Homo sapiens: one gene and its partners. The protein of the gene in region 2 purifies or fractionates together with the protein of the main gene of each other region. This does not show direct contact. Each region holds a gene or a part of one and is shown on either strand. Other genes may lie near its edges.

Region 1 (7,363 bases), on a different chromosome or scaffold from region 2:
CTGCACTCCAGCCTGGGCAACAGATACAGACTCCATCTCAAAAAAAAAAAAAAATTACCATTTACCTGAGCAGGAGATGAACTTGCTTATGTTGTTGAATAGACAGGGGTTTTCCCAGAAAAGTCACTGTAACATCAGAGAATTGTGCTACTACCAGAGTACACTCTTTCCAGAACATTTCACAAGTCAAAATGATCAGATTCTATACTAAAAAGATAAGACTGAAATAAAGCCATTTTTAATAAAAAAGGAAAGCCATAAGTTTGATTCTACCATACCCTGTAAAAGCTCTACTTTTGGGAGATTAGTGATGATGCACATAGTTGATAAACTATTTCTTGCTGTAAAACACTGGAAAGCAGGTAACAATGAATTACATAACTGATCTCTCCTGAACAAGAAAAGGAGACATATTATCACACAGTCCACCCCTTTCAGATGGTAAAAGCCATTTTGGATATCTGTAGGCAGCTGATTTCACTCAGTGATTTGTCCATTGCTTAGTCAAATCCCGATTATTTAATAATGGCTCAGCTACTACCTGGAATTATATGTCTAGCCCCCTCTAAAACACACTGGGTATCCAAATTCTAATACAAGCTAAACTCTTTCAAGATAAAAAGTTTTCAACATTTAAGGGCTTTGTTTGCCAACACATCATACACATAAAATTCTGAAAAGGTGGATACTATGGACTTGAATCAAGTTTCCTCCCTGCTGTTCCAAGTATCCTCTTCTCTTGACACTTCAGCATTAGCAGGCAAGGATAAGCAACAATTTTTACCTCTCCAAGATTACCAAATCTACCTCTCCAAAGGCACAAAATATTTTCAGGTTTAAAAACAAAACAAAACAAAAACCCTGACAAGATAATATTATAGCTCAGTAAAGTACTTTTGTGCAGTTAAAGCATTAAAAGCATCAGCCTGTTTTATTTTTTGACAAGTTTATTGAACAGTATTCAAGACTTCATCTTTATAAACAAAAACCTCTGCTGAGTGATGCCAAGGCAGTATTTGCTGGCAATGTTGTGGCCATATTGGCAACAAGCCATTTTGTTGTGTTTGGTTTCTAAAGTCTGGACTACTATAGAACTGCCAGTAAAACAATTTAAATGTGGCAATTTTGCAAGGGTGGAAAATAATTTTTAAAGTGACCACTTCCAGAAATTCTTTCCAAAAGATTTGACTAGCAGCAATTTTACATTTTCTTTACTCATTTCCCGAGTGTTCTTAAAATTGATGAGATTTTACACTTGGCCCATACCTGTACACAACCACAGACTCCAGTAAAAGGGAGCTGGAATTTAAGGCTTTCACGCATCCTTGTTTTTATGCAAGGCTGACTATTTCCACCTAAAAATGTAATGTTTGCTTACTTCCATACAGTCCTAGATTTTCATCCAGTGGGTTAAGACTGGCCTTAACTACACTGAATATTACTACCTGAAATTTTAAATAAAGTTTCCTAATCGAATTTTCATTGTTGATGCTTTGACAACTTGGAGTACAAAGCTAGGAACTACATTTCACTTAACACTGTTTCATTTTTTAAAAAGCCACTAATAATAATTGTACATCCAAACTACTGTGTAAACACAGAACACACCTCCAAATTATGCTTGTGAACTAAATGTTTCACTAAAGTTCAGAAAAGTTTACAAATTTGCTTATTTATGACATACATTTGTAGATTTCTCTAATCCTTTAAATCAAAAGAAAAATGAACACCAATAAAAAAAAAATCAGAAGGGAGAGGAAAAAAAATTAAATCTAATGGAAAATATTCTCTTCCATTAATGTCAGAGTCACCAAAAACAGACAATAAAATTTACACATAAAATTGAAAATATCATGATAGTGTTTACAAATGCACACAACTTTGAGCAAAGCTTTACAAATCCTTCATACCATACAAAGCAAATGAGAAAATAATGTCAATTCATTTCTACCCCAAACCTAGTTCTTAGGAGAAAATTCGCAGGAAGAGAGGTATGAGTAGTTTCACAGAATACATTTTCAAGAATTTTTTAAAAACTGAAACTCCAATGCCCAGAACAAGATAAACAGTATCCTTAGCAGTTAGCACTGTTAATAAATCTCAGATACACAAAAATCAAGTTCCAGAGGGCAAAGCATTTAATTACAGTCCACAACGAGCACTGTTGTGATTCATATAAAACATAGTTCTCTCCAATTTCTACACAAACCGCTCTTTTAATTTATTTAATTAGATGAACAATGAAATCGTTTTCCTTTTCAGCATTTATCTAAGATGTAGAAATAACAAAGTAGTTGCAATAAAGTGTATGAAATATTTAATAAGAATGTACGAACATATAACCAAAATAAATTGTGAAAAAAGATAAAAGACTTTCATCTTCAAACAACCCATTTTTCTAAAATGAAAATAGCTTTCCAATGGAGAAAATATCTGTGGCTGAAATACAACTCTCAAGCAGTGCTGAAGTTTTTTGCATTGTCTTTGGAATGAGAAATGATTACTTAACATTAACTTAAATTAAACAGCATATACAAACGTTATATTGCTTTTGAAATTGAGGAGGCAGTATCTAGTGATCGGTCAAAGCAAATCTGTATTCATGAATTATCAAAAGACCCACAACATAGTCACCTCTTGAGTCTAAACAATCCTTCTCTTAAACAAAAATCCTGTACTGTCAATCCTCTAAGATTGTAGTGATAAAAAGCCTTTTCAAATCTTATCAAATGAAACTGTTGCCACTCTTAAATTACACAACCGCTGTATTTCAGTGTTCCACTGACTCACAACACCAAAAAGGCACTGTATATATATATAGTTTAATAGGAAATACTTATTTTAAAAGACTGACCCCTTTGTAACTACGCTGATTTGTAGGAAATGTTGGGGATGTTTCAAACGAAGACAAAGGGGCCATGTAAAAGATAAAATTTGGTTTTCATGATCTCTCATCTATCTCTCCTTCTGTATTGTTTATAATGTGACACATTTTCAGAGCATTGACTAGGGAAAGTAACCATAACTAGAGCCCTGTAAGGCCAAGTTTTTCATCACAAGGAAAGTAACCATAATTAGAGCCTTTTATGACAGTGAGAAAATTTGTTTTTCATATCATCTCACCTATCTCCCCTTCCGTATTGTTTATAATATAATGTGACACATCTTCAGAGCACTGACTAGGGAAATCATAATTAGAGCCTTGTAAGGCAAGTGTTTTCATGACAAGGACACTTACCAACCAGAACTCATGTGGTCCTCCTGCCTTAGTGTCCTGAATACCAAAGAAAAGAGTATGAAAGGGTCAAGAATCTCAATTTTCTCCTCTGGCGGCTGCACTTGTACTCTGTATGAAGACTTTTAGTAAACAGGCTCCTGATCGAACAACTATGCCAAAAAGCCTCCAAATAACAGGACTAACACGTATCAATCTACGAACCAGCATACGGATCTTTTATTCTATACTACTACTGCTAACAAAGATAATTTCAACTTCAGTTTTAAAAACCTAGATATAACACTTTCTTATGAATGGGCCCCTCTTTGTTTAAAGGCCAAAATTTCACATAATCGGGACAGGAGGAAATTGATACTACAATTAGTCCATATGAAAAGGACTTCAAATCAAGTATCTTAAACACATTATTAAAAGTGGTTTCTGGTTTTCGATACCATCCAAACAACATGAACAATTTTTAAACTGACTAACCTAAATCGTGGCGGTCAAACCAAAAAGGCTCTGGTAGATAAAGGACTCCATAGTTTATTTTTATGGCAAAAGTCTTATTCCACACAGTTTTAAGTGTGACATTAGAAATCAAAGTTTGAGGTTATAGCACAAACGAAGTGTGGACTTTTATATTTAGGGAAAAAAACCAACAAAACAGTTCTGCTCATTTACAAATGAGTCAATTAGACAAACAAAGCAGCAACTTCTGAAGCAGGACTGTCTATACAGCAAGGACCCTTAAGAAGCAATAAAGGTACATACAATGAATCTGTATACAGAAATTTTATTCAATTTTAAAAGAAAATGAGGACTTTAGACAAAGCTTTACCCTATAACAAAGCAAATCTGTCCAGCTTTAAACCAAATTCTGAGAGTAGCCAACTTCTATTTTCAGCAGCTGGCAAGAGCACCCTCAATGAGTTCTACTGACATTTCTATTTTCTTCATCCCATATGGTATAAAACAAAACCAATCTAGACTCCTTGATAAGCTTTATGTGGTCATTTGAGTTTTACAAATGGTTTCTCTAATGGTATGCCAAAATCATTTATGTGTTCTCTCCAGATAGCTTTACTGTAACATACAGCAATGTTTATCCTGGTGAGTGAGTCTTCTGTAAACAGTCAACCAATGCTCTATGTTATGGAAACCAAGCTATATGCAATTGAAACAATCCACAGGTTCTAACCTGGAAATACTAGGAAAACAATCTGGATGCATTAATCACAGCAATATGAAGATCTACCCTATAAAAAATGATGTGAATGGCTACCCTAATACAAGTTTTACTTTTCTTGAACCTATAGGCCTGTCATTTAAGTCAATGACAGCAGCTGTGGCTTCATCCCGAGACTCAAAGGCCACCATGGCTTCACCTGTGGGCATACCTTTTTCATTGTATTTTAAACACACTGAGCCTGGGATTACTTGATAGCCATAAAAGAAATCTAAAATCTCATCAATAGACACAGTAAAGGGCATGTTTTGCACTTTAATTACTGTCGGTCCTGGTTTTCCAGAACTAGATGCAAAGCCAGGGGGACCACCAATATGGATTGGGCCAGGGCCGGGGCCGGGGCCGGGGCCAGGCCCAAAAGCTGGTGGCCCACCCAAATGCCCAGGGGCACTTCCAAGACCAGGAGGGCCACTTCCAAACCCCGGGGGACCGCCTAAGCTACCAGGGCCATTTCCAAAATTCTGAGGGCCCCCTCCAAATCCCGATGGCCCACTTAAATTGTTTGGTCCACCTCCAAAACCCGGAACATCCAGTCCTAGACCAGGCAAACCACTGTTTCCAACTGAAGGCATACCAGGCCTAGCATCACCAAAGGCCCCGCCTCCTAATCCTGGAGGAGGGATTGGTGGCCCAAAGGCATTTGATCCACCAAAATTACCAGGAAAGTTAAATGGAGGCCCATTATTGGCTTCCTTTGATCCTACAGTCAGGAAGGCATGCTCTTCACCTCCTGCACTAGGTATTCCTGCACTGGGCATTCCCGCACCAGGCAGTCCTGCACTGGTTATTGCTGAACCAGGCAGTCCTGTGCTGGGCAGGCCTGCACCGGGAAGTCCTGCACTGGGCAGTCCCACACCGGGCAGTCCCGCATTGGGCATTCCTGGAACTGCAGGATTACCTGGCACAGGCATCTTTAATCCCTTTTTTCCTTGGGCAGGGGGATTTTTCTCAATCTCTCTCATATCTTCTAGGGTAACTACATGAACAAAAGCTTCTCTCCCATTAAGTTTTTTACGGTGTAAGCGTTCAGACTTACGTGCATCATCTTCATTTTTAAACTGAACCAATGCCTGTCCTAGACCTTGCCCATTGTTATCAACAAGAACATGTACAGCATTTTCATCCACTGGGATTCCTTCTAGGAACTGAAGAACATCCATCTTTGTAATGCTGAATGGAATATTTGTTATGTGGGCACAGACTTTGGCAGAGTTGACATCCCCCTCTGGATTTAGTATCATTTCCCTCTGGTCATAGCTGAAGTTCTGCAGTCTTTTTCGAATCATATCTATCTTTTCTAGCATACCTTTCTTAGTAATTGGATGAACTTGAATAAAGCGATTGCCCATGTACTGTTTATGACGACACAGAGCAGCCTTATAGTCAGCCTCATTTCTGAACTCTACAAAGCCTTCGCCAGTTGCTTTCCCATTGGGTCCATAAGCTATATAAATACTATCTTCCACAATATCCAGCTTTTTAAAAAAATCAATGACATGTTTGTTTTCTGCTTCAAATGGTAGCCCTTTCAAGTAAACACAAAAACCAGCCTCATGTGGTGATCTTGACCTTGATCTTTTCTGCCCACTGGGCGATTTTGACCTGGGAAGTGTCTGAGGAGGGGGATGAGTTTGTCCAGAAGGTCCCATATTTTGCTTAAAAGTGATATGGCCTCCAGCAGCTACCCACTGTCTTTCTGTGGCAGGGCTAACTTCCACATAGCGTTGAATCATCAGCATTCTGTTTCGTTTCAAAGCTTCAAATGTATCTTGAGGGGAGAGAAACTTAACCAATCCATTCCCATTATTTCGACCTACATGATCTTTCAACAAATGCACTGCATCAACACGGAGCCCATGAAAAAAATCTCTGACATCATTTTCCATTGCAGAAAAGGGCATTCCATGCACACTGACATACAGATCATCAGGGTTGATGGGGAGTGGCTTCACACTGCTCTGAGAGTTCATCTGGATAGGGTTAACAGGATTCAACGGACCAAGAAACATAGGATTCAGATTATTGTTCAAATTCATAGGTGCTCCAGAGCCATTCATTCCAGCAGGTAGAGGTGCCACAGGTGGCGGATTCAAGGGCGGCATGCCCGACATGGGTGGCAGTGGGGTCATGGGTGGCACAGAAGGAACTGGGGGAATCGGGGGCACAGGAGGCACAGGAGGCAATGTAGGTACTGGAGGAGGAACTGGAATTGGGGGAATGGATGGCATTGGTGGCAGAGATGGCATCGCTGGAATTGGAGGAATTGGTGGCGGCGGGACTGTGTTCATTGGAGAGGCTGTGCTTGGAACAGTTGAGCTAAACGTTGGGCTCCCAAAGGAAGCCCCCATATTTGGAGGAGCTGTTCCTACGCTGGCTGTGGAAAATGTCTGTATGTTTTTGTTGCTTTCATGAACAGAAGTGGTGGCAGTAACTACACTGGGTGATGGATTATTAAAGTTGGATACTGTTGTGGGCAAGTTTACCCTGCTACTCATTCCTGAGCTAGGTGGTGGTCCTGATCTACTGGCATTTGCTGGTGGTATATCTAAGTTGGCAGTTTCAAAACGCCTACGACTCAGTTCAATCATATTCTGCATTTCCGTCTTACTACTCAACAATAGTGTTACTTTTGACCCTTTAATTGTACCACCTGTGCGCATCATACCAAGCCTTGCATCTTCATCAGTGGCAAAAACGATGAAAGCCTCACCCAGTTCACCCCCTACAATATGCACGCCCCCATCAGGAATGGTCAATCCAGAGAAGAAGTGGCGAATGTCCATGGTCCCCGCCACAATTGGGAGACCTTGCAAACGGATGACCACAGCCATGCTGCGCTGAAACCACACACACCTGCAGATGAGAAAAGGCAACGGCCAGGTCAGACTCCTGTTTAT
Region 2 (8,350 bases):
TGTGGGAGACAATTTTTCCACAGGATGGGGGCAGGGGATGGTTTCGGGATGAAACTGTTGACCTCAGATCATCAGGTATTAGTTAGATTCTCATAAGGAGCATGCAACCTAGATCCCTCGCATGTACAATTCACAGTAGGGTTTGCGCTCCTATGAGAATCTAGTGCCTTGCTGATCTGACAGGAGGCAGAGCTCAGGAAGTAATGCTGGCTCACCAGCTGCTTACCTCCTGCCATGTGGCCCGGTTCCTAACAGGCCACAGACCCATACTGGTCCATGACCTGGGAATTAGGGACCCCTGTTTTAAAGGATTCCCTGCTGCATTTGACATAGCTGATGGTATTAGTTTCCTGAGGCTGATGCAACCAATTACCACAGACCTGATGGCTTCAAACAAGAGCATCTCTTACCATTCTAGAGGCCAGAAGTCCAAAACCAGTTTTACTGGGCCAAACCCAAAGTGTAGTAGGGATGTGCTCCCTTCAGAGTTTCTAGAGAAGAATCTGCCAGCAGACCTTGGCTTGTGGCTGCACCATCCAATCTCTGCCTGTGTGGTTACATTGCCTCCTTCTCTCATGTATGTATCAAACATCCCTCTGCCTGTCCCTTATAAGGACATTAGTGATGGCATTTAGGGTTTATCTGGATAATCAAGGATAATCTCCCTATCTCAATATTCTTAATCACATCTGTAAACATTTTCCCACAGAAGGTAATAGTCACAGATTCCAGAGGAAAGAACCAGCTATCTTTGGGTGGCCATTATTCAGCTTGCTACACTGAACATTCTCATTCTTTCTCAAAACTCCACCCCTCTGAATTCTAGCACATTGTTCTGTACTCTTGTTTTGCTACCTGACAATTGCATCTTGGCTTCTTTGGGCCTTTTCTTGTCTGTTTAACCCCACATGGGGGCCATCCTTGGCTCATCTAGCACACTTTTCTCACTGGGACAATTTCATGGACTCCTGTAATGCATCACTCCCCCATCTGTATCTTTTTTTTTTTTTTTTTTTTTTTTTTTAAGATGGAGTCTCGCTCTGCTGCCCAGGCTGGAATGCCACGGCGCAATCTTGGCTCACTGGTGCAAGCTCCGCCTCCCGGGTTCACGCCATTCTCCTGCCTCAGCCCCCCGAGTAGCTGGGACTACAGGCTCCTGCCATCACGCCCGGCTAATTTTTGTATTTTCAGTAGAGACGGGGTTTCACCGTGTTAGTCAGAATGGTCTTGATCTCCTTACCTCATGATCCGCCCACCTCAGCCTCCCAAAGTGCTAGGATTACAGGCATAACCCACCGTGCCCACCCCACCATCTCTATCTTTAGCCCAGATTGCTTCCCTAATTATCAGACTCAGTCTGTAGCTGGTCAGATGCCTACCAAAAATATATCTATCTGGATGTTCCTCAAGTCCCTCACACTTAATAATCTTCTAAAATGAAATTCATGTTCTCCCTGTCATCAAAAGCAAAAGTGTAACTAGGTCCTCATGCTGTGGAGCAAACGTGTACAAAAGGAATTCCCCTGAATGGATATGGCGGGATCTAGGGGCAGGGAAGGGTCCATACTAATCACTGACAGAGGGGCTCTCACATAAAAAAGGGATCTCCCTTTTACTGCCTTCTCCACTGTCTCCCACATGGACTCACCATCGTGTCTCAGTTAAGCAGTAAACTGACAAATTGTGACTTTCTCACTTCAGTAGGCATCACTATGAGATACACTTTTTACTAGGCCCAGTGCAAAATGGAAATTGCAGAACCTCTTGTTCAAAGATTAGTAGGAATTTCAAGAGTAGCAAAAGCTGAGTATTAAGCCCTTCTATGCCCAGGACCCTGTGTGACTACACAGGTCACATGCCTATAAAGCTGGCCCTGCCTGGAAGTCGTTTCTTCTCTCTCTTCCCACTGCCTGGATCTAACTAGCCTCCAATACCTGCCATGCTATTCCTCAAATGTCTCCTGATTCTGTTCTTTCTCATTCTCTTCTATCATTGCCTTAGTACAACCCCTCATTCCCTCCACTTGTTCTTTCTGGCTCAGGTCTTTAGATCTGGCATCCAGATGAATCATCTAAAATGCAAATCTGGTCAGGTCACTCCCAGCCTGAAATGCTCCAGTGGCCAGCCATAACTGTAAGGATAAAGTCCCAGGTACTTGGTAAGGTCTGCCATGGTGAACTCAAAGTGATGATAATATCAAACCTCTTTCAGTGCTTGTGTATGTCATAATGTGACACATCTCTGTGCCTTTGCTATTGCTGCTACTCCTACTCTTCGCTTGGACAATGTATTCTTTTCAGTCTCACAGCTCAACTAATTGTGTGTGAATGTGTGTGTACATAAACATTTTTATAACAGTGCCTGGCATTTAGTTAGCACAGTATGTATTAGCTATTATTATTATTCCAGGAAACCCTCTTGGACAAATTAGGCTGAATAGCCTTCTTTCATGTCACCTTAGCACACTGTGCATATTTTATATTACCACATTACAGTGAAGAGGTGTCTTCCTCTGTCTGCCTCCACAGCTAGAGTGCAAGCTCCTTGAGGCAGGGACCATGTCTTACTCATCTTTTCAATCTAGTGCCAAAGGGGTATAGTGTCCTGTGCATCGCATGCATTCAAAAAATCTTTGTGTATTCAACTGATCCCCAGCATACCTTCCAATCATTTTTAGTCCTAGAGGGGTTTCTTTTTTTTTTTTTTTTTTTTTTTTTTTTTGAGACGGAGTCTCACTCTACCGCCCAGCTGGAGTGCAGTGGCGCGATCTCGGCTCACTGCAAGCTCCACCTCCCAGGTTCACACTATTTTCCTGTCTCAGCCTCCCGAGTAGCTGGGACTACAAGCACCCGCCACCACCTCCGGCTAATTTTTTGTATTTTTAGTAGAGACGGTGTTTCACTGTAGTCTCGATCTCCTGACCTCGTGATCCGCCCGCCTCGGCCTCCCAAAGTGCTGGGATTACAGGCGTGAGCCACCGCGCCGGGTGAGGGGTTTCTTAAAAAGCATTTTCATCAGATGAGACCCCAGCCCTGAGGGGAGAAGGAGAAAGAGAAAGAGAAAGAAAGAGTATTTTCAGCCACCACCTGAGGCCACCATGTTCTTCCTCTCTTACACATCTAGTACATACCCCCTTAGGCTTCCCATAAATCCTGTCTTTCCTGTGGATAATTTCTTCAATCATTAGTGGTGTGCTTCTTCTTTCTTTTTTTTTTTTTTTGTTTGAGACGGAGTCCCACTCTGTCGCCCAGGCTGGAGTGCAGTGGCGCAGTCTCAGCTCACTGCAACCTCAACCTCCCAGGTTCAAGCAATTCTCCTGCCTCAGCCTCCCAAGTAGCTGGGATTACAAGCATGCGTCACCACGCCTGGCTATCATTAGTGGTGTGTTTCTCCAATGATGTCCCTAAATCTTCTTCCCTGGGGTCTGCACCTCCCTTGAACCTCCCCATTCTACACCTAGTGCATGCTTTGCCAGGGTAATTCCAAAGGCATCTGGGGGTTGGGGCTGTTGGTAGAAATCCTAGATGTCATGGCTGGATCTTTCCTGGAAGTTTGGGTTGGGACAGGTATTAAACAGGCCACTCTGAATGTATAAATCTAATTAAAAATTTATGTGATTGGTGGGCATTTTTTCCAACCTAATAAAGTCCCTTTCCATCCCCCAGCTCTTTGTATTTTAAAAGCCAGGTCACTAGACTTGATAATTCTAGAGAGAGCTGACTGAAAAGAGTTGGTTTGATTAGAAACAGAGGTTCAACACTTTTACACTGTTGGTGGGAATGTAAATTAGCTCAACCATTGTGGAAGACAATGTGGTGTTTCCTCAAAGACCTAAAACCAGAAATACCATTTGACCCAGCAATCCCATTACTGGGTATATACCCAAAGGAATATAAATAATTTTATTACGAAGATACTTGCACGCATATGTTCACTGCAGTACTATTCACAATAGCGAAGACATAGAATCAACCCAAATGCCCATCAATGATAGACTGGATTAAAAAAATGTGGTACGTATACACCATGGAATACTACACAGCCATAAAAAGGAACGAGATAATGTCCTTTGCAGGGACATGGATGGAACTAGAAGCCATTATCTTCAGCAAACTAACACAGAAACAGAAAACCAAACATTGCATGTTCTCACTTATAAGTAGGAGCTGAACAATGAGAACACATGGGCACAGGGAGAGGAACAACACACACTGGGGCCTGTAGGGGGAGGAGCTGGGGAGAGGGAGAGCATTGGGAAGAATAGCTTAATAGATGCAAGGCTTAATGGGTTGATAGGTGTAGCGAACCACCATGGCACACATTTACCTATGTAACAAAACTGCACATCCTGCAAATGTACCCTGGAACAAAATAAAATAAAATAAGAAATAGAGGTTTGAGTCTTTCCTGGTAAGCATATTTATGCTCTACCACAGACGGTTCAGCCTTGGGGCAAGACAGTCTTTCTCCTAATTTTTGTAGTTTTGAACATTCTAAAGTTTTTGTTGTTGTTGTTGTTGTTTTCCCTGAGGACAGAGGCAACTTTGGGGAAGTACTTTGTCGGGTAGGATGGAATCTGGGGCCTTTAGTTTTCCTTCCAAGAGCCCATAGGAGGTTTTGGGTGCCTTCTCAATGCTGGCATGAGAAAATATAAAGCAGATGGACAGTGAACTTTGGTATATTCACTCCTTATGAATGTTATGTGGAAAAGTGGAAGAACATAAGCTGTTTGTCTATGCTATGTTTACAATTGGTTTGCTCTATTTTGTGCATGTGGACAAAAATGGGGGAAAAATGAAAGCTGTGTTAGGATAATGGGTATACGGCTGAATTTTCCAGGAATTTCTATAATAACACCAAATCGCATGTTTTAATGCCCACCGTGAACAAAGAAGACCGGAACCCTCGCAACTCGTTTTGACGTTTTCTGGTCGGCGGTAAAAGCTCGGTTCCCGGCCCTCCCGGAAGTTGTTGCACAGTTGTTTCCGGGAAGCGGGACTCCAAATGGGTCGCAGTCGCAGCCGCTCTCCACGGAGGGGTGAGTCCTGTAGCAATTCGGAGGATATGGGGCTCTGTTGGAGGCCTGTCCCTTTTGTTTTATTTTGTTTTGTTTTTGGTAGCCGCGTAGCAGAGAGGCGGGCCCTTTTCCCAGGCGGAGAGCGAGGGGTGGATAAAGGAACGTAGACCTGGGCCCTGCCCTCTTCAGCCCGCCCTCTCCGGTTTGAAGGCAGTTGTTTGTCTCTGAATTAGTTTCATTAAGTCTTTGTCACCTTCATACAATAACTTTTATTACACTGTGGCCGGTGGGTTTAGAATTAGACCTCAGTTCCTTTGCTGAATTTCTGGGCGACGGTGGGCAAGTCACTACTCAGCCTTTCTGAATCGAATTCCCAGAATGAGTCATTGAGGGTAGTATTGCCAACTTTTAAAAACTGATGTGAGAATTAATGTCACATCCCATAACATACAGTATGTGATTCTGCCTGGTTCTTAAATACTTAATAAATGTTAGATTCCTGCCCAGGTCATTACAGGGAAATCGATATTAAGAATTTTGAGTCCTGGGAGCTCACTTCGTAATGTTTTCTGGCTACCAGCCCCATAAATGAGGCAGCGCGACGTAAAGAACCCTGGACTTCCATTAGGAGATCTAACTTAGACCCTCGGTTCTGCCCCTGATTCGTTTTTTTTTTAAATCAATTTATTTATTTTTAATGAGACAGAGTCTCGCTCTGTCGCCCGCCCAGGCTGGAGTGCAGTGGCCGATCTCAGCTCACTGCAACCTCCACCTCCTGGGTTCAAGCGATTCTCATGCCTCAGCCTTCCGAGTAGCTGGGATTACCCGTCCGTGCCACCACGCCTGGCTAATTTTTGTATTTTTATTAGAGACGGGGTTTCGCCGCGTTGGCCAGGCTGGTCTCGAACTCCTGACCTTGTGATCCGCCCGCCAGCCTCACAAAGTGCTGGGATTACAGGCGTGAGCCACCGCTCCCAGCCTCTTTTTACCTTTTTAATGTGACTAGTAATGGTTTGCATTATTTTTCTACTGGACGGCGCAGCTCTAGATATTTGAGGTAATTATCAGTTCTGCAATTTGTGTGCGTTTGCATTAGAACGTAGGCGTTCCCGGTCCACATCCCGGGAGAGAGAACGCAGGCGCCGAGAAAGGTCCAGGTCTCGGGAGAGAGATCGGAGAAGGAGCCGCTCGCGATCCCCGCACCGAAGACGCTCCCGGTAAGGGCAGAAAATAAGCCAAGAGTTTTATTTACCGAAAGTCCCTAAGAAACTGGTCGCAGCTCTTAACTTTGTTTTCATCGCTTATAAGGGGATTTACGGTTTCCTGAAATGGAGGAAACTTAATCCAACCTTATTCTAAAGCTAACATTCACCTTGGTTAAATGGTGCTAATAGTACTCTACATCACAAAGTTGTCTTGAAAGAGTAAGTAAGAAATAATGCATGCAAACCCCAGAGCATGGTGCTTGGCAAGAAAAAGAAATAAGTATTTTATATTTTTGTTTCTTTCTTCCGTTCCTTTCCTTTCCTTTTCTTTTCCTTTTCCTTTCTTTTCCTCTTTTTTGAGACGGAGTCTCGCTCTGTCACCCAGGCTGGAGTGCAGCGGCGCAATCTGCTCACTGCAACCTCCGCCTCCCCTGCAATCTCTGCCTCCCCTGGTTCAAGCAATTCTGCTGCTGAGCCTCCCAAGTAGCTGGGACTACAGGCACATGCCACCACACCCAGCTAATTTTTTTTGTATTTTTAGTAGAGACGGGGTTTCAACGTGTTAGCCAGGATGGTCTTGATCTCCTGACCTCGTGATCCACCCACCTCGGCCTCCCAAAGTGCTGGGATTACAGGCGTGAGCCACTGCACCCGGCCTGTTGTTTCTTTTTTATTAACTTTTTGGTGATAATGATTTATTCAAGTATGTAATCAAGAATGGATGATCTTGGAAGAACATTAGAAATGGGCTCTGAGTCTTTTTTTTGGTTTGTTTTTTTTTTTTTTGAGAGAGAGGGTCTCCCTGTGTTGCCCAGGCTGGTCTTGAATTCCTAGGCTCAAGCAATCCTCCTGCCTCTGCTTTCCAAAGTGCTGGAATTAGTAGCGTGAGCCACCAAGCCCCACCTGGCTCTGAGTCTTAATAACCATCAATTGCTGTTTAAGTCAGCTTTTTTGTATATTTGTGTGTGGTTGTTAGAAACTTTTAATTTACATTTTTCTGCCTTCCAGAAAGCTTTCTAGCCCTAGTTGTACTGAATGCAACTGATGATTAAGCAGTAAACTACATTAAAAAATTTTTTTGTTAACAATCAAGGCCTTGGCAGAACCTTTTTCCTCACTTTGCTATACGGAATGACTCGTGGTTCTGTGGAGCTCACCTCATGTATATCTGTGCTGATTGATACAAAGTTGATATGTCTGTCTGTTTCTAACATCTTTGCTTATAAATATTAGATCTCCAAGACGACATAGATCCACATCTCCTTCCCCTTCTCGACTGAAAGAAAGAAGAGATGAGGAAAAGAAAGAAACAAAAGAAACAAAGAGCAAAGAACGGCAGATTACTGGTAATGTTATTAGATAAATAACTGTAGGAAAAGTACAGTGATGATAAAATTATAAAAGTTTAATCTTGAACATTTAAATGTTAAGCCTTTTATAGTATTCATTGCATATGGTTTTGAGTTTTTTTTGGTTTTTTTTTTTTTGAGATAGAGTTTCATTCTTGTCACTCAGACTGGAGTGCAATGGCACAATCTTGGCTCACTGCAACCTCCGCCTCCTGGGTTTAAGCAATTCTTGTGCCTCAGCGTCCCAGAGTAGTTGGGATTACAGGCACCCGCCACTATGCCCGGCTAATTTTTGTATTTTTAGTAGAGACGGGTTCTCACCATGTTAGCCAGGCTGGTCTCAAACTCCTGACCTCAGGTGATCCTCCCGCCTCGGCCTCCCAAAGTGCTGGGATTATAGACGTGAACCACCGTGCCCAGCCTGAGATTTTGTTTTAATTGCACCCTAGCAAGTTGCTGGTTATCTATGGTGCTCCTGATATAGAACGATAGTTAAAAACATGAGAATATTCTATTTTGGAAGTGTCTTCAGAACTATATAGTGTCATGCCTGATATTAAAGGTAGTCCTTAATATGAAACCCAGGTTTTTTTTTAAAAGGTAATCCTGTCTAAAGGCTTCAAGGAGAGGACTTTTTTTTTGTACCATAAGTTACATTCTGTCCAAATGTAAGAGGAATTTTTTCATTAGACTCATCTTCAGCTAATTGTTTTGTGTGTTCTCTGCTAGTGAGGTGGAATGACTATTAATCTGTTACCACCTCTCTTTTTATTTATGTA
Region 3 (5,635 bases), on a different chromosome or scaffold from region 2:
CACTTCCATACTCTCCCGCAATTTGGCTGTGGCACCAGTTTTCTCCCTGGTCTCCCTGCTTCTGGTCCCTGCCACTCTCCTCTCTCCCTACTCATCTTTCTAATTTCTAAATGCATCTTTCTAAGGTTCTGTTTTCACTTTTACTTGAAGATGTCCAAGTTGGAACTCTTGACTTTCTGCCTCCCATACCTGGTCCTTTCCTGGTCTTCCCCCATCTCAGTAAATGGCACCTCTTAGTAACTCAGTTCCTAAAGCCAGAAACCTAGCTTCAATATATTAGACTTCTCTCTTTCTCTCATTCCCCACATCTAAGTTTTGCTAGTGCCCCTTCCAAATACAGCTCATTTTTTCTTTTTATCTCCTACCACTACCACACTGTCCAAACCATCATCAGTCCTTAACTGGATTTATGCAGTAGTCTCTATCCAGTCACCATGCTTCAACACTTGCCCCCTCCAATCCTCCTTTGTACACAGTAGCTAAAATTATGTTTTTAAAATATAAATTAGAGTCTGGACATGCTGGCTGATGCCTGTAAAATCCCAGCGCTTTGGAAGACTGAGATGGGAGGATCACTTGAGTGAGTTCAAGACTAGTCTGGACAACATAGCAAGATCCTGTCTCTACAAAAAATTTAAAGATTAGCTGGGCAAGGTGGCCCATGCCTGTCCCAGTTACTCATGAGTCTGAAGGCAGGAGGATCCCTTGAGCCCAGGGGTTCAAGTCTGCAGTGAACTATGATCACTCCAGTGCACTCCAGCCTGGGTGACAGAGCAAGAAATATATATATATTAGATTATGTCACTTCACTACTTAAAACCCATTAGTGATGGCTCTGCTTGCTTCTCCAGTCTCATCCTACTCTCTTCCTTTCTGTGCCCCATCCCCCTGCACCATCAGTTCTGAGAACATGCCAAGCTCTTATCTGCTGCAGGCTCTTCCACTCAGTTCTCTCCAGCTTTTTGAACACTGTGCTCCTTCCAGTTCATCAGGCTTCAGCCTCAATGTCACCTCCTCAGAGAGCCCTTCCCTGACCACCTATTTGAAGTAGTTCTCATCACAGCACTGTCTCTATTCTCTCATAATCCAAATCACAGTCCTCAGTTTTGCTGCTTGTTTATTTATTTATTACCTGTGTCCAAAACCAGAATGTAAGCTCCATGAGAACAGGGAGCATCCCTAGCCCCTTGCATAGAATCTGCCACCTAGCTGATCTTTAATAAATGTTTGCAGATTGAACCCGTACATCAAAATATTTTATGACTTTCACATATTATGTAAAAGTCCAAGTTCCTCGGTGTGATATTCAAGTCCCCAATAACCTTTTCTTCACCATTCCTATATTCCAGAACATTCCTTGATACTTTCCGATGTGACATCTTGGTTGTTCATGTCCTACCATTTACCTAAAATGCCCTCCTATCATCTGTATATCTTTTATGGCCTAGCTCTGCCTCTCACCCCTTCAAGGCTTCTCTCTATTTTGGGAATGAAAACCCAGCCAAAAGCCACTTTTGTAATTACTTTTGTGATTTCAAACAAACAAACAAACTCCCCAGTTGCTTCAGTCAGAAACAATAACCAACTGCCTTGTTACATTCACTGTGATGTGTGAATGTCTGCACCAAATCACATGCACACAGAGTTCTACGCTGTCTCATAGTCTCAGCCACTGTAAAATCTTTCTTCTTCTTCTGCCCCCACAGGTTTTCTGTTCCCCAGAGCCACCTGCCAAGACCTCTACCCCAGAAGACTTCATCCGAATGACCAAGGGTATCACCATGGCAACCGCCAAGGCCGTTGCTGCTGGCAATTCCTGTCGCCAGGAAGATGTCATTGCCACAGCCAATCTGAGCCGCCGTGCTATTGCAGATATGCTTCGGGCTTGCAAGGTAGAAATCCTTGAGGCATTTCCGTGAGGCAGCTTTGGGCCAGAACATAGTGGGAGAGAAACTGTAGGGATCTGCGGGGCCTAAAGCTAACATATTACTCTGGGGACAGGAAGCAGCTTACCACCCAGAAGTGGCCCCTGATGTGCGGCTTCGAGCCCTGCACTATGGCCGGGAGTGTGCCAATGGCTACCTGGAACTGCTGGACCATGTACTGCTGGTAAGGGAGGGCGTTGCTTGTTCCTCATACCAGCCTCCCTGAATACACAGCCCTCTTCCTGCAGGCCTCGCACCCTGCTGTCTGTTTTGCTCAGATCTCCTCCCTACCCCACCCTCTACTTCCCAAATCTGTTCTCCTTTCCAAGTCTCCCTTTCTCCCAGGCCCCATCCTTCTTATCATCTTTGGTTCTCCCAGTCACCTCTTCCTCTTCCTCTTTTTCTTTTCTCCTCCCTTCCCACCTGACCACCCCCTTCTCTACTTTCGTCGTCTCCTCTTTCATCTCATCATTCTCCTTGCTCCTTGTCAGCCGGTGAGTGACACAGCCCCACTGTCTCTATCACGTGTGAGGTGTGATGCATGATGTGTACTTGGATAGGCAGCGTGGAGTTTGAGGGCTATGGTGTGGAGTGCTCTAGGGATAGGGGTGAGGGGGCCATGGTCTGCCCTATTTCATAGATCAGGGTAGACCCTAAGATGTGATGCTCTTTGTCCCCTGCCCGCTTCTTGCCCAGACCCTGCAGAAGCCAAGCCCAGAACTGAAGCAGCAGTTGACAGGACATTCAAAGCGTGTGGCTGGTTCCGTCACTGAGCTCATCCAGGCTGCTGAAGCCATGAAGGGTGAGGGGTGACCAGGGACAGGGACGGATGGAAAACCCTTATCATGGTGTGATCTCTGCTTCCTGGCTGGACAGCTCTGTGCTAGCCTCTGACCATAGTCCCCACAGATGCCAGGGCCTGATGATACTAACCATGCTCCCTGGTGCTTTTGACCTCCCCACTCTGCCTTAGCCTCTTTCCTCTTCCTTCATCCCACCAGGAACAGAATGGGTAGACCCAGAGGACCCCACAGTCATTGCTGAGAATGAGCTCCTGGGAGCTGCAGCCGCCATTGAGGCTGCAGCCAAAAAGCTAGAGCAGCTGAAGCCCCGGGCCAAACCCAAGGTCAGTCCTGCTCCCTTCCTCTTCCACCCTCACCATGGCAGTGTCCCCACCTTCATCTCTGACTTTACATCTCTTTCTGCAACCTTCGCTTATTGCAGGAGGCAGATGAGTCCTTGAACTTTGAGGAGCAGATACTAGAAGCTGCCAAGTCCATTGCAGCAGCCACCAGTGCACTGGTAAAGGCTGCGTCGGCTGCCCAGAGAGAACTAGTGGCCCAAGGGAAGGTGAGTGCTTAAATACCCAGAAGAATGGGGACAGGTTGGCACTTTGATGTCCACATCCACATCCATAGCCAGCGAGTCTTTGAAGTGAGGAAAATGCAGGTCTAAGTAGGCTCTTCTCCTTCCTACAGGTGGGTGCCATTCCAGCCAATGCACTGGACGATGGGCAGTGGTCCCAGGGCCTCATTTCTGCTGTAAGTGTGCAATACCACTAGGTCTCTCTCAGTTTGAGAGACTTGAGAAGGCTGGAGTGGGGATGGACCAGGGCAAGGGGCATATTTTTAAGCAAACTCTCCCTGCTTTAGGCCCGGATGGTGGCTGCGGCCACCAACAATCTGTGTGAGGCAGCCAATGCAGCTGTACAAGGCCATGCCAGCCAGGAGAAGCTCATCTCATCAGCCAAGCAGGTAGCTGCCTCCACAGCCCAGCTCCTTGTGGCCTGCAAGGTCAAGGCTGACCAGGACTCGGAGGCAATGAAACGACTTCAGGTGAGAACCCTGACCCATCCCATTGTCCCTTGGGCTATACTGCTTCAAACTGTCACTCCCGAGATGTATGTTTCTATGAGAGAATTGAGGTACTGTCTCAACTGGGACCGTACCTGAGTTCTCAACCTAGGCCACTTTCTCTCTGCCCAGGCTGCTGGCAACGCAGTGAAGCGAGCCTCAGATAATCTGGTGAAAGCAGCACAGAAGGCTGCAGCCTTTGAAGAGCAGGAGAATGAGACAGTGGTGGTGAAAGAGAAGATGGTTGGCGGCATTGCCCAGGTGAGCTTCACCCCAGATGCTGAGGGACGCTGTCAGGAGGGCAGTCATGTTGCCTGCGCTGGTCCCAACTACCCTATGCCCCTGCTGTGCATCCTCACTGAACTAAGTCCCCGATCTCCACCCTCAGATCATCGCAGCACAGGAAGAAATGCTTCGGAAGGAACGAGAGCTGGAAGAGGCGCGGAAGAAACTGGCCCAGATCCGGCAGCAGCAGTACAAGTTTCTGCCTTCAGAGCTTCGAGATGAGCACTAAAGAAGCCTCTTCTATTTAATGCAGACCCGGCCCAGAGACTGTGCGTGCCACTACCAAAGCCTTCTGGGCTGTCGGGGCCCAACCTGCCCAACCCCAGCACTCCCCAAAGTGCCTGCCAAACCCCAGGGCCTGGCCCCGCCCAGTCCCGCAGTACATCCCCTGTCCCCTCCCCAACCCCAAGTGCCTTCATGCCCTAGGGCCCCCCAAGTGCCTGCCCCTCCCCAGAGTATTAACGCTCCAAGAGTATTATTAACGCTGCTGTACCTCGATCTGAATCTGCCGGGGCCCCAGCCCACTCCACCCTGCCAGCAGCTTCCGGCCAGTCCCCACAGCCTCATCAGCTCTCTTCACCGTTTTTTGATACTATCTTCCCCCACCCCCAGCTACCCATAGGGGCTGCAGAGTTATAAGCCCCAAACAGGTCATGCTCCAATAAAAATGATTCTACCTACAACCTCTGCCTGGCTTCAAGGGAGATACAAGTTTTCTCCCAGGGCAGTAGGAGAGACAGTGGGGTTGAATTCTGTCACCCAGCTTGATCCAGCTTGAAATGGGAGAGGGGAAGACTGGCAGTCTGCACCTGAGGTCCCTTCCTCCTTGCACCCGGACCCTAAAGTTATCCAATGGGGAAGTTGTGCCTGAGAAGTCATACTCCTGTTATCCTCACCTCCCTGGCCAGCACCTAAGCCTCACAAAGTGTCGTTCTGCTGCTGCTGGGACAGCAGCTACCACAGTTCCTTGTGGCTACCAGGACATTCTGTTCTTCATAGCTACTCAGGGTATGTCAACAAATCCAGTCCTTGACCAAATTCAAATTTTCAAAAGAAGCTTTGCTAAAAATAATATGCCTGTAAGTGTCTGAGCCTAAGAGAACTATGGCCACAAAACTGATTGAAGCCATTAGCAAGCAGAAAAATCCCAACTTGAGGCTGCCTCGGGTAGGCACCGCTCTTGATTGGGTTGGGACACTCCTGCCTAGGGTAGCGCTAAAAGTGAAGAGCTTGACCCAGGTGTGAGAATTTATTGTTAGAGGGGGCAGAGCTCCCCTAGTGGCCAGGAAGGTGCTAGCAGCCCTGTTCCAGCCACCCTGCTTATCTGGTGGGTCAGTGGAAAGAGGCAGTCAGAGAGGTGGATGCTGTGTGCTTCCACGTCCCCATCCAGCCACTCTGTCCATAATGCATGGACTCTCTGACAGTCGTCTTAGGTTGGCAACTATTTTCATGCGTGATTCTTTAGTCAGCCCTACCGCCCAGTACATTATTTCCTCAAGTAGAACACAAACGCCACCCATCTGCTACTAACACCTTCTACTCCCACCACATTAGGGAAAGCTTGAAGTAGAT
Region 4 (7,850 bases), about 170 Mb from region 2:
CACTAAGCAGCTGATTAAAGACATACCAATGAAAAGGACCAAGACTTGACGTTAGAGTTGAACTCCATCTAACCTTGGACAAGACCAAAGTCATTTAACTATTCCAAGCCTCTACAGAGAAAAGGGAAAACAATTTGTTTTATGAAGACAGCACAGTTTTAATAACAAACCCAGATGGAGACATAAGAAAGGAACAAAGGAATGAATGAACGCCATAGGCCAATCTCACTCACAAATATAAATGCAAAAATCCTGAATACAATATTTGCTAGCAATTAGATTCCAGGAATGTATCAAAAGCATCTACCAATATTAATCCAACAACACAGTATAGGGGAAAAAAAATCATGCATTAATAGATGCTGATGAGGCATATGAAATTCAGCAACCAATCATAATGAAAACAGTAAGAAAACTGCTGGCAGAGTGTGGTGGCTCACGCCTGTAATACCAGCACTTTGGGAAGCTGAGGCAGGAGGAGCGCTTGAGCTCAGGAGTTCAAGACCAGTCTGGACAACATGGTGAAACACTGTCTCTACAAAAAATACAAAAAAATTAGCTGGGTGTGGTGGCGGGCACCCGTAATCCCAGCTAAGTGGGAGACTGAGGTGGGAGGATCCCTTGAGCCCAGGAGGTGAAGGCTGTAGTGAGCCGAGATGGTGCTGCTGCACTCCAGCCTGGGTGACAGAGTGAGACTGTCTCAAAAAAAGAAAAAAAGGAAAACTGCTTAAATCTAATTCAGGATATTTCTGAAAACCAAAGGCAAATACTGTTTTCTAAACAATAGAAAATTAAATCTATTTAAATTACAACCGATAATTCGGCAGGAATGCCCTTCCATAATTATTTTTAAGCACTTACATGAAAACTTTTACATGAAGACCTATACAAAAAGCAAACAAAACCCCCATGTGCTATCCATTATCCAGCTTCAACAATTAGCAACTGAAGGTCAATAATGTTTCATCTATTTCCACAATCATCAATGCCACTGCCTGGATGATTATGAAGCAAATACGAGATGTAACATTTCATTTATATTCCACTACACATATCTAAAAATAAGGGCTCCTAAAAATGACAAACCATTACACATAGCTAGTTCTTTAATGCAATCAAATATCCAATCAGTATTCATATTCTCTATTCTCTCATTTTTTTCATGTGAATCAAGATCCAAGTAAGATCCAGATATTGCAATTTCACCATGATTATTTAATACTACCTTGGTGAGTTTACTGAATATAATGAAACAAGAAAATCAAAAGAAAACACTTTTTTGCTGATTGGACTGAATACACAGAAAATACAAATACTCGGCTGGGTGCGGTAGCTCATGCCTGTAATCCCAGCATTTTGGGAGGCCAAGACGGGCATATCACGAGGTCAAAAGATTGAGACCATCCTGGCCAACATGGTGAAACCCCGTCTCTACCAAAAATACAAAAATTAGCCAGGTGTGGTGGCGCCTGCCTGTAATCCCAGCTACCCAGGAGGCTGAGGCAGAATCACTTGAACCCGGGAGGTGGAGGGTGCAGTGAGCTGAGATCGCACCACTGCACTCCAGCCTGGCAACAGAGCAAGACTTTGTCTCAAAAAAAAAAAAAAAAAGAAAATACAAATACTCTGGTTAAAAAAATTCTAGAATACGATAATTTAGTAAGGTAGCTAAATATAAGATCTCAAGTAAGTCAAGTACCAGCAACAAATATCAAGGAATAGAAATGGGGGCACATCATTTACAACAGAATTTTTAAAAATCCAAACAAGTAGGGACCAAACTAGAAAACAGGTCCTACATAAATCAAATCATTTTTATTTTCCCCAAATGAGTATGTTATTTAGTCCATTTCTAACTGGAATCCCTAACGGTGTGGCTTTTTTCTTAAAGGATTGGATAAAATGAGCTTTAAGTTCACATGGAAAGATTAAATGCCAATGCTGAGGATAGAAAAGAGCAGGCACTTACCTTATCACCTATTACATGTATCTGATTTCAAACCCACACAGTGCAACATAGAAATACCATAGAGCACCTCTCCCGCACCTCCACAGAACCCCTCAGCCTCACTGAACCCTGTGCACACATATGGGAAAATGGAGAAACTATTTGTCTTAAACTGACATTTCAACTTTGCTTTGACTTTACCAAGTTTCTCCTGCCATCTTTTTTTTTTCCTGTTTTTTTTTTTCTGAAACATAACTTGGATCCACAATGTTTTCTCTCATAATTTATTAACTAATGTGAAATGGAAGGTGAAAGAGGAATTATGAACCTCTGAAGCACATGGTTTTCAGTGAGAAAGCCTTGATCCAGCAACACAAACTGCCAAGCACTGTGATTAACTTAAACACTGGGTGCAAATTGGACCAAAAATGTAGTCAAATGAAAATTTTGTTCCTTCAGATCGTGTTTATTCCACATGCCAGAAGTTGTTTAAAGTTCTTTAATCTTGACCCACAGCTTATTTCTTCCACAGAATAACCCCAATACACATAAAAAACCAATTTTCGCAAAACAAAAGATAGAAGATGAACAACATCTGGCGATGTAGAACCCGGAAGGTCCATGATCTTATTCAAAGCATCTGGATTCTTTGGATTCGGGGAAGGTCCACGTTCAGTATACCCACATAACACTCCTAACAGGGACTGGGGCAGGGATAAGTGGCATGTATGACTACTAACAGAACAGACAATACAAATGGCCTTACCTCACCTCTGCTGCCAAATGAGTTTTGGTGTCCCCATTCCTCCAGACAAAAAAAAAAAAAAAAATACCCACAACTTCTTCTTTTACAGCAGTTTCTGTATGCTGGTATTGGGGATAAAAAGGGGCCCTGAATTACATTTATGAATGATAGAGGGAAACCCTGGCCCCTTTCCCTAGGTCACCTTGCTAGTTTAAGAGCCAGTCAGAATGTAAATCTGATCTAATTAAAACGCTCTTGTTCTTTATTCCTGGCTGTGGCACTGGTGAGAGAAATCAAGGTGGAAGTTGAGGAAAAAAAATCAGGACAACCTTTATAGCTAATGAGATCAATGCCAAGATTATACATAACAGTACACATCATGAGTTAGGATGCTGGGTGGTGCAAAGAACCCATTAATGGGAGCTATCAAAAATCACTGAAAACAATGAGGCTCAAATCAGAAGTATCAAGAATCAGCTTTCATGACCCCTACACCATGATGTTTTTCTTTATGACGGCAGAACTATTTTGAAACATTAAATATATCGGCAGGCACTGTGATTCAAAAAGTATTTGAGAACCTACTAGGTGCTAGACACCAACCGAGGCAATGAGTATGGGTGACAACATGTGCCCTGCCCTCACAGCACCAATAGTCCACTGGACAAATACCATCTGGAACATCAGGTAAACACCTAAGCCTGTCTGGAGGAAATCTAATTTGGGCGGAATCCCACAAGCACAGACTAGGTAAGGAGAAGGCAGTTAAGGTGGGAAGTAGCCAGATTTAAGAGTTTGGGCAATGGCCAAAGGTGCAGAAGTTTGAACTACAAGAAGTTCAGTGTAGTTGGTTCGTGTGTTTCCGTGGAGAGAGGACAAGGTCTGGTGGCACTGACAAGAATTAGACCGAAAAGGTAAAAAAGCAAGCCAGGTTTGTCTGGGCCAGTAGGCCAGGTCACAGTTGGGACTCCACTGAGACCACGGAAGCCACAGGTTTGCTCCTCATCCCCGGGCCAACTCGGCGGCCTCCAACCCTATACCCTACCCCCTGCTGCCTGTCCGTGCCTCGCTGGTGCAGACCTTCGTCGCCTCTCCTCGCCGAAGGTACCCGCAGACAGGGCCTAGTCGCTCTCCCCTCGCTTATCCACGGCATCCAGCCGATGGGCTTGGAGGTTTGGGGGCTGGCCAGTCCTCCACGCCTCAGGGAGGAAATGGCACCGTTAGAAAGACAAGATGGCCACACAAGCTCTAAGTGTTTGTCGGGCCTAAACCTGTATCCTCCCTCCAAGCACCAAACCTCCCGACCTCGACCGCACTCGACGCCCCGAGGCCCAGCACCGACGACAGTGCAGAGGAATTCCCGCAGGGTCAACAAGGGGTCACCGGAATCCCCACTCCCGCGCCCGGGCCTGCCCGTGTCGGAGCCACTGTCGCCGGCACTAGGACCGCCCGGGACGGGGGAGCCCACGATAAGTGCCGAAGAGCCTGGGCTCGGCCGCCCCTCCCCCACACCGCCCCGCCGGCACCCCAGAGCCAGCCGACCACCGCCCGAGAGTATGGGACGAGCGGCGCGTCCCCCGCAGCTCCTCGGGAGGGCCGGCCCACAACTTGTGCGGGGTACACCGGCGAGACACTCACCCGCCAAACAGCCCGAGAACAGGCGCCGACCGACCGCGCCGCGGACCCGCCCAGCGCTCGCGGTCCGCTCACAGCCCGCCCCAGCCCGCCCCGCCCCGCCCAGCGCGCAGGCGGATTGCGTCACCGCGTCACCCCGCCCCTTTGCCAACTGCTTCCTGGCTCAGTGCGACCTGGCCTTCTTCCCCTCCCCCATGCGGCCGGCTTCCGAGTGCGCAAGCCCAGAGTCGTCCGCGTTGTCCGCCTCTGCGCAAGCGCCGTGCTCCTCCCACGGCAGTTGGCCATATAGAGGCTGGGGGTGGGGGGGGAGGTCAAGCGTAGCCTCTTCTCCTTTACCAAGATGGCGGCTTGTCCCTGTTTCGCCACAGTTCCTACCTTATGAGCTCGGTTTTCTTATGCTTATAAGAGTGGAACAGGTAATGAGAATCTTCGCCTTGCGGTGGGTAACTGGAGTGGGGGGAAGGCCGTTTGTTAGAAGGAGACAAGTGCCCACTGAGGAGGAGAGAGGCGGTCGCGGGAGGGCAGGTGGTGGCGGGAGTGCGGAGCGATCACGGGGAGGGGGAGCCTTCGCCTCTCCTCCTGTCCTCCAAGAAGATGGCGGCAGCACCGAGCTGGGGCGCCGAGTACGACTGGGCGGGGGACGGCGAGCGGCCGCGCGAAACTCGTCTAGCCCACCACCGCCGCCGTCTCGATGATCGGGGGGCCTCTCTGGGATTGGCTGCGCGCACGTCACGTGGGGCCGACGGGCCCTGCGCAGACCATCGAGTCGGGCGTCCCTCCCCGGGGACGTGGCCTTCCTGTGCCCGGGCTGGGGCCCGCCGCCCCGCGGGGGAGGGCGGAGCTGGCGCGGCCCCTAGCTTTCTCCTTCTGGTGTGGGGCCCGAGGTGAGACCTGGGGAGTGCTCCGCGAGCCCACGAGCAGCGACGTGGCTCGGGGACGGGAGGGTGCCGTGCCTGGCTGCGGCCTGAGCGGGATGGGCGCGGGCGGCTCCGGCCCGCGGGTTGTGCCCCGGCCCGGGGTGTCCTTTCCTCCCTCCCGCGTGGCCTGGAGGCACTGCAACTGTTCGAGACTCACGTCAAGGCTTGGCGCAAATACCCCTCGTTCAGGAAGCCTTCCTAGGTTTCCCCCGCTTAGAGGAAACACTTCCTGAGTTCCTAATGGCTGACCCGCATGGTGTTGGGAACCTGAGCCTTTCTGACACCGTGGCATGTTGCTAGGGTATTTTTGTGCGTAGCTCCTTTGAAAAGTGGTTAGGTGCTCAAGGCTAGCTGCTACATATCCTCTCCATTCGACTTAAAAAATGAGAGGGTCAGACTTGACATGGTGTTTGGACGCCATGTAAAATCGAAGGAAGTCGACTTGGGCTTTGCTTATTAAACAGTGCCTATTATGGTGAAATTAAACGGCTGAAGGAATGTGGATGAGTCGTAATCTTAAGGAACATGACGATTTGCCCCTCAGTTTTGCGTTTTATGTCCTCAGATTCATAGCTACCTATACCCTAAGCCCTCAATCAATGACTTCACATTTATTTGGTGTCTGCTTAAGGATAGTCACTTTCTTAGCAGCTAACTTCCTTAAAACCCTATTAAGATAGGTTAAGTCACAATTAGGGTTTTGTCTAAGGCTCCTGGTAGCGGCACATTGCATAATAAGCTTAATGTTCATTTAGGGAAGCAAATCTGGGATGCTGAAACACTGGATGAAACGTAGTGCTTAGGTTTATATTTTGATTTTTTGACATGTAAAAGTATCCCTAGGCTAAATTCATTAAGTACACATGATATTAGGATGCTTGGCAACAGTATTTAAAAATAGTTGAAAAGGTGTTTGGGTAAGAATTATTTCCATCATTTGGATTACCGAATCTCTGAGTCTGAAACATCAACCTATCAAGTTTTAGACTTGGGGAAAATGGAGCTGGAGCCTACTGCCTCAAGTCTCAGGGACAGCGTTTGAAACCCCATTAAATAATTCATCATGAGGATTAAACTTTCCTGTTACTGCTATTAGTTTTGCTTGGTGCCAAGCACTGTTGAAGGGACTTAGCTCATCTTATCAGGAGTCAAATTAACGTCATTCGGGTAAAAGTGCATTGAGTGTAAGGAGAGCACCTCAAAGATATAGTTGACCTATATCACGTCCCTCAGCGCCACTAGGCTTACTTGAATCCCTGTTACAGTGTCCTCTCCAGTGGGCAAAGCTAACTTCTCAGTGGCCTGGTGGGAGAATTTCTTCTTGAGTAAATACGTATTTTTCCAGGTTTTGTTGTTTTGGCCTTCCAGTTGTCTGACTTCAGCCTCATGACCTCACTTCTTCATTTCAATTCAAAAAAATATTTGCTGGAAATTGCTGTGTAGGGTTAAGGGTTCTGCAGATACAAAGGTTGAGAGGATATAGTCTTTTCGACCAGGTGCAGTGGCTCACGCTTGTAATCCCAGCACTTTGGGAGGTCGAGGCGGGTGGACACTTGAGGTCAGGAGTTCGAGACCAGCCTGACCAACATGGTGAAACCCTGTCTCTACTAAAAATACAAAAATTAGCCTGGCATGGTGGCGCGCGCCTGTAATCCCAGCTGCTCAAGAGGCTGAGGCATGAGAATCGCTTGAACCCAGGAGGCGGAGGTTGCAGTGAGCCGAGATTGTAGCACTGCACTCTAGCCTGGGCGACAGAGTGAGACTGTGTCTCAAAAAGCCAACAAAAAAAGAGGATATAGACTTTTCTTTTCCTCAGGCAGCTTGTGGTCTAGTGTGAGAGACTTATTTGTAGAAGAGTAATTACATTATGGTGTGATAAGTGCAATGATAGAAATATGTGTAAGGTGTGGACATAGGAAATAGGCAGTGGTTACCTGTTGGAAAGTCTTCCTACAGAATGTGGTCCTTGAACTGCGGTTTAAAAGACGAGTAAGAGTTTTTCCAGGTGGTGCTGAGTGGACAGGAAGACTAGGAAAGAGGAGGCTGACATTTATAGTTGGTGGCATACGTGAGCAACAGGTTTAGAATTTGGTATACTCTTGCCATGGCAAATGGTAGAGGGCTTGGCTCAGACTGTGTACTGAAGGACTTGATGCCCTTCAGTGAGTTTTATCTAAGATACTCTGACCTGAACAGAATTTGAGATGATTGTGCCGGGTCCACTGGGATATCTTACGATCCTTCGTGGGTCATATGGATTCTCCATTAGTGCGTCCCAGCTGAAACTTACAGAAAGGGCTTAAGCAGAGAACATGCTTTTTGGAGTACAAAGTGATATTTTTATTTGGTATGGCCCGTTCATTGTGCATCCATCCCATAGGCAAATGGTGATACGAAAGCTTTTCCCTCTTTTGGTAAGAAGTAACCAAGTTCTGAAAGAAGCATATCATGCGGCTTTCCCAATTGCCAAGTTATGATGACACAAAGTCCAAAATGCGTGTAAAGGTTTTTGACCAAGTAGAAAAGCAGAGAACCCCAACCAGTATAATGTGTCAGAATGCTTTTTCTCTTCAATTGTAAAAGCACCACAACGTTCAACATCTGG

The links.
Region 1: the proteins of SNRNP27 (region 2) and RBM12 purify together in Homo sapiens (affinity purification with mass spectrometry; 2 studies listed by BioGRID and IntAct, with this or other methods). This does not show direct contact.
Region 3: the proteins of SNRNP27 (region 2) and TLN1 purify together in Homo sapiens (affinity purification with mass spectrometry; 2 studies listed by BioGRID and IntAct, with this or other methods). This does not show direct contact.
Region 4: the proteins of SNRNP27 (region 2) and HDLBP purify together in Homo sapiens (affinity purification with mass spectrometry; 3 studies listed by BioGRID and IntAct, with this or other methods). This does not show direct contact.

Annotation. Positions count from the first base shown.
Region 1 is NC_000020.11:35,648,026-35,655,388, forward strand, and holds the end of RBM12 (RNA-binding protein 12), read right to left. Parts: intron 7,320-7,363; 5' UTR 7,298-7,319; coding exon 4,499-7,297; 3' UTR 900-4,498; downstream 1-899. Other genes in the region: CPNE1 (copine-1), read right to left, coding at 5,503-5,517.
Region 2 is NC_000002.12:69,888,981-69,897,330, forward strand, and holds the start of SNRNP27 (U4/U6.U5 small nuclear ribonucleoprotein 27 kDa protein), read left to right. Parts: upstream 1-4,975; 5' UTR 4,976-5,004; coding exon 5,005-5,038; intron 5,039-6,113; coding exon 6,114-6,234; intron 6,235-7,455; coding exon 7,456-7,568; intron 7,569-8,350. UniProt on the Homo sapiens protein: May play a role in mRNA splicing.
Region 3 is NC_000009.12:35,696,448-35,702,082, reverse strand, and holds the end of TLN1 (talin-1), read left to right. Parts: intron 1-1,706; coding exon 1,707-1,892; intron 1,893-2,001; coding exon 2,002-2,109; intron 2,110-2,621; coding exon 2,622-2,727; intron 2,728-2,926; coding exon 2,927-3,051; intron 3,052-3,149; coding exon 3,150-3,275; intron 3,276-3,403; coding exon 3,404-3,466; intron 3,467-3,577; coding exon 3,578-3,760; intron 3,761-3,910; coding exon 3,911-4,039; intron 4,040-4,166; coding exon 4,167-4,292; 3' UTR 4,293-5,135; downstream 5,136-5,635. UniProt on the Homo sapiens protein: High molecular weight cytoskeletal protein concentrated at regions of cell-matrix and cell-cell contacts. Involved in connections of major cytoskeletal structures to the plasma membrane.
Region 4 is NC_000002.12:241,312,464-241,320,313, reverse strand, and holds the start of HDLBP (vigilin), read left to right. Parts: upstream 1-4,641; 5' UTR 4,642-4,744; exon of another isoform or gene 4,745-4,959; intron 4,960-5,083; exon of another isoform or gene 5,084-5,212; intron 5,213-7,850. Other genes in the region: SEPTIN2 (septin-2), read right to left, coding at 2,720-2,815, 3,759-3,846. UniProt on the Homo sapiens protein: Appears to play a role in cell sterol metabolism. It may function to protect cells from over-accumulation of cholesterol.